2 linked regions of the Homo sapiens genome follow. The protein of the gene in region 1 interacts with the protein of each later gene in a pairwise test. Each region holds a gene or a part of one and is shown in the gene's direction. Other genes may lie near its edges.

Region 1 (8,160 bases):
CCGCCTCTAGGCTTCGGAAACTGCACACGGCGCGCGGGGGGCTCCTTCTCGCGGCCGGCTGGCGGCGGCAGCGGCTGCGATTCGCAGGCTCGAGATTCGTTGCCCCGAGATCCGCTGCCCACGACTTACCTCTTGGCACCTTGAAGCGCGAGAGACAGGGGAGCTTTGCAAATTGCAGGAGGGAGTGGATGCAAAGAGGTGGCTGTGAGAGGGCGAGAAGAAAAGAAGGGAAAGGAAGGAGCCTAGCCGGGGAGCCGGGCTGGCAGCCGCCGCGGGAGGAATCTGAGCGTGCAGCCCGCGCGGGGGGAGCGGCGGCCGCCGCGGAGGCGGCGGCGCGGGAGGGCGGAGGCGCGGCCGCCTGCAGCTGGGTAGCAGCGCGCGGCGCGGCGCGGCGGTGGCGGGCAGCGCGCGGCAATGCCGGCCCCGGGGCTGGACTGCTGAACCCACACCGCTTCACCACCGGACTCCAACTGGGAGGGGGCGCCAGCGCACCCAGGACGCGGTGCCCCAAGGGACCCCATTCCAAGCTGCAAACTCAAGTCCCCCGCCTCCCCAGGCCAAACACACCCCCGCGCCCGTTCGCAGCTGCCACCCCGGGTGTTCCAAAGACTCCGGCAAAGATCTGCGCCTCCCGGGTCTCCCTACCCGCCAGCCCGACTGCGCCGCATCGCCAGACTCTGTTGGCCCATCAGACTCCGCCCGGCAGTCGGCCTCATCAAACTTGATTTCTCACCTCCTCAGCCCCATCACCTCCATCCTCTTTCCCCCCGTCTCGCCTTCACCCCCCCAATTTCCTCCTTGCCCCTCATTTCCACCCTCCTCCCCCTCCCCCGGCCACTTCGCTAACTTGTGGCTGTTGTGATGCGTATTCCCGTAGATCCGAGCACCAGCCGGCGCTTCAGCCCCCCCTCCAGCAGCCTGCAGCCCGGCAAAATGAGCGACGTGAGCCCGGTGGTGGCTGCGCAACAGCAGCAGCAACAGCAGCAGCAGCAACAGCAGCAGCAGCAGCAGCAACAGCAGCAGCAGCAGCAGGAGGCGGCGGCGGCGGCTGCGGCGGCGGCGGCGGCTGCGGCGGCGGCAGCTGCAGTGCCCCGGTTGCGGCCGCCCCACGACAACCGCACCATGGTGGAGATCATCGCCGACCACCCGGCCGAACTCGTCCGCACCGACAGCCCCAACTTCCTGTGCTCGGTGCTGCCCTCGCACTGGCGCTGCAACAAGACCCTGCCCGTGGCCTTCAAGGTAAGAGGCTACACCGCCCCCCGCCCCCGGCCGGGAGCGGCGGAACCTGCCCGCCGGTGTCTTCCTGCCCACGGGGCTGGGCCCCGGACGTCCTCCAAGACCTCCTGCCTTGGCGGCTCTAACCCCAGAAACCCCCGGCCGGGCCTCCCTCCGGATGCCCTGGCGGGCTCGGGGCTCAGTCCCTCCGCGCAAATCCCTCCCTCTCCCACCTGTGCCCGCTGCCACCCCGACTTCAGCCCTAGTCCCCCTGACCCGTTCAGCACTCCTCATGCCTCCTGCCTGGCCTTGATTCTCACTCACTCCTTCGCGCCGTCTCCCTTTCCCCCAGGATCCCCAAAGTACCCACTCTTGCACTGCGAGCGGACTTGCTCCACCCCGCCCCTTTCCCGGGGGCGAGGATCCCCGGCATTGTCCCCTGGGGCTCCCGCGTCCTTCCGGGACATCCCGGCCTGGCCGCATTGCGGGCTGCCCGCGCAGCCTCTCTTTGGGGCTCCGCGCGCTCTCACCCGCTTCCCTCACAGCCAAACGCCTCTCCTCAGGTCTCGGCGTCCCCTTCCCCGACCCGCAGAGTTCAGCGGTCCTGGTCCCTCCCGGGCTCCCGTGCCGGGATTCGTGGGGTGCCGGTGCCGGGCATTAGTGCCCGGGGCTGGGCGTGGGGTGCTGACTGAGGCGCGCGGGCTGCGCTACCAGTGCCCGGGAGGGTCCTGGACAAACCTAGGGTCTCCAGAGGAGGGGGTGTCAGGGCGGGGGCGTTTGCTCTGTTCGCTGACCCGCGCCAGATCCCGTTACCGGGAGGAAGGCGGGGCCGCTGGGGCGTCCGCAAGCCCCGAAGCGGGGGCGTTCAGGGGGCCTGGGCGCTGAACCCTCGAGTGCTGGGAGGCGCGGGCCAGGGGACGGGGCGGGAGCTCGGGCCGCTTCTTCCAGCCGGGACCGAGCTCTGCGCCTCGCCCCGCCAGGGAGGGATGAGGGAAACCTGTGGAACAACTTTAGTTCGCCCAACTTGAAAACGGAGGTGAAATTTTGTATTTTTGCTTTATTATTATTTTTAAAGGACTTAAATCTAAAAAAGATCCCTCCTGCTTCTGAAAGGTGGTGAGAGGCTCCTGCTGGTGGCCTGAGCACGGAGTGAGCTCGAAGGCTTGAGAGCGGCCTCTGCGCGCCCCGCAGACTCTTGTGCCTGCCCGGCCCGTTAGTTTGAGGGCGGGTGGCAGCCGCGGGAGTCGCAGGCAGGTGCTCCGCAGGTTGAGGTTTTAGGATCTGGAGCCTCTCACAGTAGCCCGATGGCTCTCCATAACCCGATCCAGATTTCCCGGGGTAGCCCTCTACAGGGGGGAGACGCGGAGCCCCCAGGGCCCAGCGCACACTGGGTTGATGGGGAAACGGGTTCCCAGGCTGTCCACACTCGCAGGACTGTCCACACTCGCAAGACGCCAGGGATGCAGGGGTGGTAAGCCAGACGTGGAGATGAGACTCTCAGAAAGGTGCTTTGGGCCCTTGCTAACCTCTGAACTTGAGTAGGTGGGCCTGGGTCCCCTGGGTTCTGAGGTCTGTGGAGAGCAGGGCAAGCAAGGCCTTGGGGGAGGTTAAAAAAAAAAGTTGGGGGAGGAATCATGCCAGTTTCTCCGCTGGGGACCCTGGGGCCAAACTCCCACGGGCCACTGACAGTTCCCAGTTGTTGATCACCCCCACCCCACGCACCAATTCAGATTCCGTGTGTGGGTGGGATGGAAAGAAAGAGGAGTCCAGGTCAATTAGACCTGGTTATCTCGCTAGGACTTATATCAGAACAGAAATCAGAATGAATTGTTATGGAAAGGGGATGTTGCATTCTGGGGCAAGTTTCATTTTGCAGTTGGCTCAAGAAATTTTTTTTTTTAACCGTCACATTTCTCCTTTTATAAACCACCCATTTTGTAGGTTAATGTTTGCTTCCTTGAAATAGGAAAAGCTCAGAATACATGTGAATTGTATAAATTTAAATTTCCATACAATATATATCTTTTACAATGTCCATCGTCCAAGGGCCCAGAATTTTTAAATTAGTCTTATATGAGAATGGAAATTTGTTTCCACCAACGCCCTCCAATCCCCCAAACCAAAAGCCCCCAAAAACCCCAAACCTGGATGAAAACAGCAAAAAATACAAATAAGTAGATACCTTGTCTGCACAATGCCACAAATCAGAATATGTGAAAATATAAGAACAGATGCTTACATTTTTAAAGTGTTCCATATACCATTCTGCTAAACATATTTAAGGTCTATCTTGAACTGTTCTCTTGCATTTATGCGGCTGAATTGATTTGAACATGAGCATTTTGGATGGAAAGGTTGTTTTTTGCACTTTAGCTTGAGCTAGTCTCAGATATTTTGGCTGTCATCTAAGATTTTTCACTACCACCCTTTAAAAATTATTTTGAAAATAAATTTTGCTCTTTGTTATTAATCAACTTGTTAATCACACAGAGTACATTTTTGTATCTTAAGCAGTAAACAGACCGTAGGTAACAAGACCATATTAAATTGACTATTTTAATTCATATCAATTGAATAATGAATTGAGTTAACCTACAACCTGACTGTCAATGTCTTTCTATCAACATACCTGTGTTAAACAATTCAAAAAGTGGGTGATAGCTAAGATCTACTCAGTATAGAAAATACTCTGTTGAGAAAAAATGTATGGATGTTTGGAACATCCAGATTGTGACAACCTCTCTTTACCCTACTTTTGGAATAAAAGCCTGAGAGCACTAGACTTTCTATACTCTTACAATATAATCAAATACATCTGCAATGAAGAAATAATATGAAGAAGTCTCCCTTTTAAAAGTGGTGACAGCAATTTGGCCATGATATTTAGAGCTATGTAAAAAATAGATTATAGTGGTTGTCAGGTCAATAGCAGATAGGTAAATGGATTTAAACACACACATACACACACACACACACAACTTATTTGTTGTGAAGTCTGATATTCAAATCAATACAATATTTATTGAGCCCGTATTTTGTATCTGTCACACTGAGCTTGACACCGCAGAGAATCAGAAATGAATTCAATAGACTGTTTTGAAATGTCAGTTTAAACTCGTGTTTAAACACGATATTGTCAATCTATTTCATTAAGAATGTATTAGCGTTGTTCATCTACTCTTGTTTCGAGATGATATAAAATTTATTTATTTTTACATGTAAAAATGCAAAAACAACTGGTATACTTTATATAAAGTTGTTTATTAACATTGTATTTTTAACAAAGTTCTGCAGTTTTGAAATGTTCGGTCCCCCCAGGTGTCAAGGAAACGGAAATAAATATTTTTAACATTTTCAGGTGTATCTCACTGAAACCTTAAAATAGTTAGGGCATACTATTAGAGGATCCCAGACCCTTTCTATCCTAGATAATTCTAGTGACAAAGAAGTAATTTGCAAATTCAGCTCATTAGCTGATGGTCAGGTAACGGTGGAGAGAGCGTGTCAACCATGCATCCAGTAGCACCCTTTTAGTTAGGGGTCTGTCAGCATTTCCACTGTGAAGCCTGGTGTTCAGGGTTCGTAACTTAGTTGCCTTAAATAGCTTCAAGCTGAAACACTATGCAGAAATTTTAAGTCCAGATGTATATTTTAAAACTAAAAGTAGTTCAAGTCTATTCTGCTGTTTTAAGTTAGAGAACACTGGACTACATATATTTATCAGTATCATATGTTTTTCTGGCAGTGTTAAAGAAAGAAAACACATTTTTAGATATATAAGCTAGCACTCATAGTTAATTCTGTATATTTAATAATACCTTTCAGTGCTTGTCAAAAGGAGGGGTTTCAAAATGACAGAGCAATTTCTGTTTGAAAATAAATTTTTGGCATCACTAGCCATTTTTCTCTCTTCGAAAACAAATATACAACTGGTAAATACTTGATACCAGTGAGTAGTATTTTTCTTACATAGTTAATGATCAGATTTTATGTTTATATTTTTTGAATCTCATTGTATCTAAACTAGGGAAAATAGGTTGTTAAGCCTGTTAAATCCTTATTAACCGTAATATAAATTATTATGCAAAATTATGTAAATCAATAGATTTCAAGTTGTGTGAAGACAGACACATTTTTGTGTTATGCCTTTGAATTCAAGAAAACTTATTTAAAGTTAAATATTTTGGGACTGAATATATAAAACTTCTAAGTAAGGAAGTTGGAACAAAGAATTTCAGGTGGAAAATAAATACTTATAAAATTTTTTAGAAAACTTCTATTAAATATTTGAAAATAGGTATGGTAGATATCTTTCATTATTTTTTCCTCTTTGGCATTATTGTTTGTATCCTTTCAAAATTCCAGAATATCTATTGTTAGATGATCTAAACCACCATGATACATGGCCCACAAATTGCTGCTTTACATTGAAATAATTTTTATCAAAATTTATCTTTGACATATATATTTTTAAAATTATGAAATGACATATTGTGTTTTTTCTCTAAAATTCAATGGGCTTTTCCTAAGTTCTAGGATAAATTCAAAATATTAACTGTAGTATTTGTTGAAATGTTTTGATACTGTATTTGAAGTTATCTTTAAGTAATTGTGATAGGAATAACATTTTTGCTTTTTGCAATTAGTCTCACTTCTCTTTTTATTGCAAAGAAAGATTTGATCAGATTTTATCTTGAAAAATAATTATATTTCAATTATACCGCAAGTACAATATCCTGAATTATTTTGGCCTATAAGAGTAATTGATTAGTTAAGACTAGACTTCTGTCCATGGAAATGTCATAGGCAATTTTAATTTCCATATAAAAAGATGAGAAACTGTTTTAAGGGTTTGAGTTAATTCTCCATTCCTCTTCTTTTAGTGATTCACAGATTTAGTCATAAGGAGTCTCATACAAAATTTCAATAGCATTACTACAGTTAAATATCCTTCTACTTTATTTTGTGCAAGCCACATATCATGTGATTTAAATGCTAGTTATGGTGAGGTGCGCTAAATAAAGGAACGTCTTTCTCTATTCTGAAATGTCAGGACAGAAAATTACTTCTCCTTTTCTCATGGAGTTTCTTGAATTTGTAGATTTTATATTTTAAAAAAACATAGAAATGTAATTGTTAAGATCATCACAAATTATTCTTTGCAGAGCAGTACTTTTGTATTGGGTAGGATGGAAGCAAATTCTAATTTGTGCTTATTCCTAACTAGTTAAAGAGCGAGTTTTGACTGCACTTTACCCCTTCAAATGTTTTTCCATTGCTTGGTTTTGGTACAGATGAAATGTGTAAAAATTTCTTGATTCTTTTGGTTTTCTTTTAGATAAACACAGTTGAGAATCTCCAAGGGAAACTTTTTAGCTTCAGAGATCTACTTAAAGAAAAAACCTCTCAAACATATAATTATACTTCTGATTGATATAAAGTCAAATACAGTACTTCCCCCAACTCCCAACCTTTTCTCCCCCTCAGAAAAACATCGGGCAATCTGATTTGGTAGAGTGAATAGCAGAAAAAAAACCAATATATTTAGCCATTAAACTAGAGTTCAGCTTTAACAGGAAAGATTGTCACTACCTTGCATTAGCATTTTTTTTCAGGTCTTGCTCTCAGCCTCATAGAAGGCTCACACAACTTGTGATTATTTATTTGTTTTGTAAAATGTGATACGTAAAACACACTAATATTGAATATGGTCATTATTATACTGCTTAAGCACAGTAAAATGGATGTATGTATTTCACTCTTAGGGATCTTTTCTTTCATATTTTCCCATATTGAATCAATTTTCCATTTCTTCTAACTAAAAAAAAATTCATTATGTTAAAAATATGCAGTAAAATAATAATGTCCCAGAGTTCTTGAAAACCTTTATATTGGGGCAGATTGCTTTTTTTTTTTTTTTTTCGGAAATGTAGCCAGACTTGAGTGAAATCCACCAGCAGTCATCCTGTATCTCTCAACAACATCAAAGAACATCTCAGAACATGAAGTGAGGAAGTACGTACTCAGTTGAACCCTTTAAGAATGCTTATAAGTAAAAGCCTATGTTTAACAGACAGCAGATTTGGAACAGAACACTGTGTTACCCTCCTCATCTTACAAAAAGCACATCATTATAATTACACTCTATACTTATATAGTATCTTCTACATTTTGCAGACTTTCCAATTCATATTGGAAAACTGTGGTTCCTGGAGATGAAGTTATTTTGTGTGAGGTCATAGCAGATATGTAGCAGAAGTGGGGAAAAAGTGGAGCCTCTTGATTTTGGTATATTCATTCTCTTCTAAACAGTACAACTTTTCTCCTGCCTTTATTAATATGCTTACTGGGTCCATATTTACTTTGACATAGAAAGCCACGCAGCAGGTGTTAAAATACAATATGCTGAGTGTACAAAATGTCAAACATTCAGATGAATCCTGGCGAATGTAGTCAATTATTGCAGTATTTTCAAATGTTCACATTTTTGGCATGGTGAATTTGAAAAATTGAAAAGCACATTGCCTCCATCAGGAGTACAGCATTACCTGTATTCAGTAGCCGCTTGAGATATGAGATGACGTGTACAGAGAGGAAGTCTTATTTTCAAGGGATTTTACTTTTGATCCAGGAGACTTCTCATATTGAGAATAACTATATTCTCCAGGGAAAGGGAGGCAGCATGGTTCCGTCTCCTCTGAGATGAAAACAATGTCAGAAAACAAGCTGGGGGCAAGGGCACATTGCTGTTAGCAAGGGGTGCTGACTCAACATTAACTGGCCCTCTCAGAGTTTTAGTGGGTAGCCCCACAGACTTCTGTCTCTGCGAAGTGGGGCTCTTTATGGAGCTCTTTCATTTATTTCAAAAATGTTTACCTGGCTGGGCTCGGTGGCTCACGCCTGTAATCCCAGCACTTTGGGAGGCTGAGGCGGGCGGATCAC
Region 2 (7,000 bases), on another chromosome or scaffold:
CCCTGTGTCTGGCCTCTCGTGCTCAATGGGATGCCCTTCAGATTCATGCACCTTGTTGCAGGTTTCGGTAGCTTGTTCCTTTTTCTTGGTGAGTAGTGTTCCATTGGCTGGATGTGCCTAGTTTTTGTTTATTGGTTTTCTGTTGATAGATATCTGAGCTGGTTTCTGGGTTTGGGTGGTTAGGACTAGAGCTACTAGTCCTAGCAACATTAACTAAATCACGGAAATTTAGAGCTGGGGAGAGTAATGATCTCATTGTTCGGATGGGAAGACTGAGGCCAGAGGAGGGAGATGACCTGCTGGATCAGGGCCAGGAGGCAGGACTCCTCCCAGGCTAGTGCCACTCTGCCAGATCCACCCCAGACACAGCTCCTCTCCTCCTCCCCCTGGAACCCTCCCAGCAGGACCCAGAGTCTGGCTGGGAACTAGGCCAGGCCCTGAGCAGGGGGTAGTGAGCGGGAGTTTCGGTCAGAGCTCGGTCATCTTTGATGTTGTTCACTCGTGTCTGACTCCTTGGTATTTATTTGCAATTAAAGAGCTGGTTCCTAATTAGGCTGATGGCCGTGGGAGATGGCAGTACCACAGCCTAGGAACCACGAGGAGAAAAAGATCCTTCTGTAAGAGACTGTCCCCTCACCTGAGTGGCAGCCCAGGCTTGTGACTGAGAGGCACAGGGGGAGGGGGCTGTGCAGCTGTGGGAAGTACAGAGTGGGGACCATGGGTTAGGGGGTGCCCACCTTCTCACTCATAGTGTTGCAGAGCACGTCAGCTTGTGTTGGACACACCGCATGAAATCTGAATGCACGTATGTGTGTGAGAGAATGGAGCTAAAGCAGGGCTCATTCTAGACATTCAGACATTTGTTGCTTCATTCTTCCATTCCTTCACTCACTGGGCACCTCTTTCACCGCAGGTGCCAGGCTAGGGGCTAACCCCTAACATTTGTAAAGTGCTTTGCGGTTTGCAAAGGGCCTTGTCATCCACAGTCCTATTGAGACCTTCCATGGCAGTGACCCTGGGCCATGACCCCCAACCCCACTAAAGATCCCTGGCCTCTGAAGGGTAAGGCCAACACTGGAGCCCGTAAACAAGGCACCTCCTTCCTTCTGCACCCACTTGATTTTGCCAGAGTTTCCAGAAAATTCAGAGATGGACTGTGGTGAGTGGGGTACTTAATTATTGAATCAGTCCTTTTACAAATACAGAGACTGAGGCTTGGAGACGTTTAGCAGTTTATCGATGGCCACATATCCAGTCAGTGGTGGCAGCCTTAGGTCATTCTCACTGTGAAACCTTTTGGACCATGTGGCATGGATTAGAGTAGAATTCTGGGCTCTCAAGTTCTGGCCCTAGGTCTGCCACCTGCTGCTGTGTGTACTTGGGCAAGTCCCTTGACGCCCCCCAGGATGCTATCTTTGGGGCACCAGATTATTAGACTCCATTAGTGGTCCCAACAGGCCAGTCTCAGGACCAAGTTTTCATTGGTCCATGGTGACAGAAATAAAAATAAGTTAGAAAATAAGTCTGTACATGGCAAAATAAAGCGGTGGTAGTCTGGGTGAGCAGTGGCTCATGCCTGTAATTCCAACACTTTGGGAAACCAAGACAGGCAGATTGCTTGAGCCCAGGAGTTTGAGACCACCCTGGGTAACATGGCAAAACCCGGTGGTGTGTGCCTCTAATGCCAACTACTTGGGAAGCTGAGGAGGGAGAATCGCTTGAGCCTGGGAGGTCGAGGCCGCAGTGAGCCATGACTGCACCACAGTACTTCTGCCTGAGTGACAGAGTGAGACCATTGCTCAAACAAAAACAAAAACGAAGCAGTGGTCGCCCTGTGTCATTCCCAACTCCCCTGTTAAAAACATGTGTTGGTTTGTGGAAGCCTGAAGTGTTGGGTCTCACTGGATAAGATAATGTCAGCGGATACTCGAGCTCTGACGCCCTGGGACTGAGAGTTGAGTGGGGACAGGGAGGCTGAGTGGGTGGCTTACCCTCTGGATCAGACAAGAGACCCCAGTTTTTGCCCACCACGCTTCAGTGCCCTAGGGCCTGAGCCCAGCAGCCTACCTGCTGGGCAGGATTCCCCGTGGGGTGTGGGGTGGGGGCAATGTCTAGGCACTGGGACATATTTTATTTCCTGTCCCCTTCCCTTTTATTAGGTTGGTGCAAAAGTAATTGAGGCAGGAGGGTCACTTGAGCCCAGGAGTTTAAGCCCAGCCTGGGCAACAAAGCAAGACCTCATCTCTACAAAAAAGCTTTTGAAAATTAGCTGGGCATGATGATGTACATCGCAGTCCCAGCTATTCAGGAAGCTAAGACAGGAGGATTGCTTGAGCTCAAGGAATATATGCAGCCCTGGGATAGATGGAGACCCACCCCTCCCCTTACCAGTCAGAGAGTGTAGACCAACTGGGGGGCACTGACCAGGAGCGCAGACACCTGTTAAGGCCAAGGGAGGGGCTGCAGTTCAGGTGCCCCAGGAAGGAGAGGTCAGAGAGGGCTTCCCAGAGTGGCAGTCTGTCTCCCTGAATTTGGGAGACATGGCCAGGAGCGCAGGCCTGATGATGTGTAACCCAGTCTGTTCAACCAAGGAAGCCGCAGGGGATGGGGCCTGGCTCAAGCCCAGGGTGTCCCTTAGCTGGATGGCTGGGGCAGGCAAGGCCTGAAGGCGGCTCTATGGGTTCATCCCCAGTCATAGGGTACCATAAGGTGTGCTGGGGCTAGGCTGGGGACATGGGTTTTGATTGGGGGGATGGAAGGAGTTTGGCCTGGCTGGGGTGGAGGGAACTGAGAGGAGGGGGATAGGAAGTCCCACCTGTCCTTGAATTGAAAAACTTTCTTTTCTTTTCCTTTTTTTTTTTTTTTGAGACAAGGTCTCACTCTGTCATCCAGATTGGAATGCAGTAGCACAATGACTGTTCCCGGTAGCTTCAAACTTGGGCTCAAGCAATCCTCCTGTCTCAGCTTCCCAAGTAGCTGGGACTACAGATGTACACCATCATACCCACCTAATTTTTAAAAGTTTTTTTAGAGATGAGGTCTTGCTTTGTTGCCCATGCTGGGCTTAAACTCCTGAGCTCAAATGAGCCTCCTGCCTCAGCCTCCCAGAGTTCCCAGCCAGAAACCTTTTGGAAGCTGGGAAAGAGAAAGTCGCTTCCCCTGCCCCCTGTGCCCCTGTCCTTCCCCAGCTAGACTCTCCCTTTTTCCATGGGTGGGGCAGAGCTGTCACTCTGTGGCTGGGCAGCTGTCTCAGAGCCTTGTCTGTGAAGAGGTGCAGCAGTGACCCCTCCCTTAGTGAGACAGTAAAGTGAGTCCTCCAAGAGTGGGGATAGTGACACCTCAGCTTGTAAATAGTAACCTCTAGGGCTCATGGACCATGAGAGCAGTCATGCTTACATATAGGGAAACTGAGGCTTAGGGAGGTAGAGGGACTTGCTCAGTGTGCAGGTTTTAGGAAGGAGCCAGGACAGAACTCTATCTGGAGTGTGGAGAAGAGCTCCCCTCTAGAGTGTGGCCTAGCACCAAGGCGGCCCCAGCATTCACTGGTGTATACCCTGGGCCTCAGTTTCCTCACCTGTGGAATGGGCTGCTAGTAGAGGTGAGATGAGGCTGTTGTGAAGAACGGGCCCAGCTCGTAGAAGGCACTCATGGATGCCGTTGCCCGTCCTGTCTCCCAGCATACTCCAGGCATCGCTTCTTTGCATCCCCACCTTGCTGTGCCTGACACACTCGTGGAATTCTTGTTGGTTGGTGGGCAGTGTGGGTGCTGCAGTTTCGTGGCTAGGCTGGCATGGTGCTGCTTTTCTGGCCCTTGGGGACTCCCAGACCTGTGCCAGGTAGATGGCTGGGGAGAGGGGCACTGGAGTGGGGTGGCTGGGGAGAGGGGCACTGGAGTGGGGTGGCTGGAGCTCAGAGTCTGGCTGTTCCCAGCTGCCCACCTGCTGGGACTGGCCTGATGCTTGCAGCCTAGTGACCTCCCAAGGGCTTGAGCTGTCTCTGTCACTATTGCCCACTGGCTAAGGGGCAGTTCTGTCGAGGGCAGGATGCAGGACCTCTTCCTCCTCTCCTGACCATCAGCTGGAAGCATCAGAGGCCTCACTGGAGACTCTGAGGCAAAATGATCCAAGCTGCGGGCTGGTGTGAGGACTTGGATTACCCCCCAGCAGACTTGGGGACCTGTGTCTGGGACCTCAGTGCCAGGCCCAGGACAAGGGGCACACTCATGAAACCTGTATCCAGCCCAAAGCCACAGCAGAGCAGTCAGCCTCCAGGAGGCCCCTGAGGCAGACAGCCTCCTGCTGGGTGGCTGGGCGGGCCTCCCAGTGTGTAAGGGGATGTCAGGGGCCCTGCCACCCTGTTCTTCTGGGGCTTCTAGGCAGGGGCAAGACCAAGGCAAAGGCGTCCAGAGCTGGCCTCACTCAGGCTCCCAGGTGAAGCTGTTAGAAGTGTTGTCCTCTGGGATTTGGTTGGACTTTGATCAGTTTTCCTCAGAAAAAGAGCCATGAATTGCTTTGCTTTGCTCTGTCAAGCCTCCAGCAGAACGCCTCCCTCTGCACAGGCCCAGGCCAGAGACCTGTGTGGAAGCAGGCATGGCAGGCAAATCATGTCACCTCACTGGGCAGTTATAGGTGCCTGCCTGCTTCTCAGAGCTGTGAGCTCAAAGGAAAGGCCAGATGTCAGAATCTGAGAAGCTGGCCACATGAGAGCAGGGAGCACCCTGGCCTGTGTTGGTCTGAACTTTGGTCTCAGAAAATTGTTAAACTCCTCCAGACACACAGACGGCCCGAGTCAGTGACAAGGGATTTCAGTAACATCTTAGCTACCCCTTTGCTATACAGTGGGGAAACTGAGGCCCAGAGAGGAGCAGCACACACCTTCAATTGCTGGGCAGCTCCAGAGCCCTTAAGGAGCCATTTTCTTTGTCATTTAGGGACCCTCAGCTCCTCTGCCATGCAGAAGTAGCTGCAGTTCTGGTACAAACCTGCATTTCCTGCCAAGAAAGCCAACTCAGGTGGGCGGTACCAGGAGGCTAAGGCTGAGTCAGGGAGCAGTCAAGCAGTCATATTTATAACAAGGCCACCACAGGAATCCCACTGCTCCAGGCCGGAAGGGATCCTGGGGGCAACTCCTCCCACCCCCAGCCCGCCTCCCTGTGCTTGAGTCCTCTAATGTGATTTCAACCTCCCCCGCCATCCCCCAATAGCCTAACCCTACTCTGTCAGGTTGAGACTTGGACTAGTGGGTTCAAATTCTGGCGGGGTGCCCTCCTCTGTAGAACGAGGAGAAGGTGGCGTCCTTGCAGAGTGATCGTGAGGACCAAGTGAGTCCTGTGTGCTGTGAAGAGTAAGAAGTACAGTGCTCCACGCCGGGTCCGTGATGGTTGCTCCACAGTCAGCCCCTCCTTTGGGGGCGTGCAGGCAGTTGTCTGTCTCTCCTGCTAGCATGAAGAGGCAGGGGCAGGGTGTGCATGGTTCATGTCTGCGTCCGCAGCATCTAGCACACAACAGGTGCTCTCTGGCTTGCACTCTGTGGCTCATAACCTTTGTTTTCTCCTTTGTGTGAGCTTGTGTGTGTGAAAGAGATGTCCCGTTGTGCGCCATATTTCCTGAGGACAACCTGGCACACGGTGCCCACATGACTGCTGAATGCTGGAAACCTTACCCAGCTCCCACTGTGCAGACAGCAGTGCCCACCTCCGCTCCTCGGTGCCTCCCACCTCCCCACCCAGAATAACGCGGCGGTCCCTGTGCTTGTCCCGCAGACGCCAGCATGTCTCCGGACGCCACCAAGCCGAGCCACTGGTGCAGCGTGGCGTACTGGGAGCACCGGACGCGCGTGGGCCGCCTCTATGCGGTGTACGACCAGGCCGTCAGCATCTTCTACGACCTACCTCAGGGCAGCGGCTTCTGCCTGGGCCAGCTCAACCTGGAGCAGCGCAGCGAGTCGGTGCGGCGAACGCGCAGCAAGATCGGCTTCGGCATCCTGCTCAGCAAGGAGCCCGACGGCGTGTGGGCCTACAACCGCGGCGAGCACCCCATCTTCGTCAACTCCCCGACGCTGGACGCGCCCGGCGGCCGCGCCCTGGTCGTGCGCAAGGTGCCCCCCGGCTACTCCATCAAGGTGTTCGACTTCGAGCGCTCGGGCCTGCAGCACGCGCCCGAGCCCGACGCCGCCGACGGCCCCTACGACCCCAACAGCGTCCGCATCAGCTTCGCCAAGGGCTGGGGGCCCTGCTACTCCCGGCAGTTCATCACCTCCTGCCCCTGCTGGCTGGAGATCCTCCTCAACAACCCCAGATAGTGGCGGCCCCGGCGGGAGGGGCGGGTGGGAGGCCGCGGCCACCGCCACCTGCCGGCCTCGAGAGGGGCCGATGCCCAGAGACACAGCCCCCACGGACAAAACCCCCCAGATATCATCTACCTAGATTTAATATAAAGTTTTATATATTATATGGAAATATATATTATACTTGTAATTATGGAGTCATTTTTACAATGTAATTATTTATGTATGGTGCAATGTGTGTATATGGACAAAACAAGAAAGACGCACTTTGGCTTATAATTCTTTCAATACAGATATATTTTCTTTCTCTTCCTCCTTCCTCTTCCTTACTTTTTATATATATATATAAAGAAAATGATACAGCAGAGCTAGGTGGAAAAGCCTGGGTTTGGTGTATGGTTTTTGAGATATTAATGCCCAGACAAAAAGCTAATACCAGTCACTCGATAATAAAGTATTCGCATTATAGTTTTTTTTAAACTGTCTTCTTTTTACAAAGAGGGGCAGGTAGGGCTTCAGCGGATTTCTGACCCATCATGTACCTTGAAACTTGACCTCAGTTTTCAAGTTTTACTTTTATTGGATAAAGACAGAACAAATTGAAAAGGGAGGAAAGTCACATTTACTCTTAAGTAAACCAGAGAAAGTTCTGTTGTTCCTTCCTGCCCATGGCTATGGGGTGTCCAGTGGATAGGGATGGCGGTGGGGAAAAGAA

The links.
Region 2: the proteins of RUNX2 (region 1) and SMAD6 interact in binary tests that used the Homo sapiens proteins (3 or more experiments, as listed by UniProt).

Annotation. Positions count from the first base shown.
Region 1 is NC_000006.12:45,421,716-45,429,875, forward strand, and holds part of RUNX2 (runt-related transcription factor 2), read left to right. Parts: intron 1-129; exon of another isoform or gene 130-501; intron 502-559; exon of another isoform or gene 560-861; coding exon of another isoform or gene 862-877; coding exon 878-1,242; intron 1,243-8,160. UniProt on the Homo sapiens protein: Transcription factor involved in osteoblastic differentiation and skeletal morphogenesis. Essential for the maturation of osteoblasts and both intramembranous and endochondral ossification.
Region 2 is NC_000015.10:66,775,236-66,782,235, forward strand, and holds part of SMAD6 (mothers against decapentaplegic homolog 6), read left to right. Parts: intron 1-5,761; coding exon 5,762-6,300; 3' UTR 6,301-7,000. UniProt on the Homo sapiens protein: Transforming growth factor-beta superfamily receptors signaling occurs through the Smad family of intracellular mediators. SMAD6 is an inhibitory Smad (i-Smad) that negatively regulates signaling downstream of type I transforming growth factor-beta.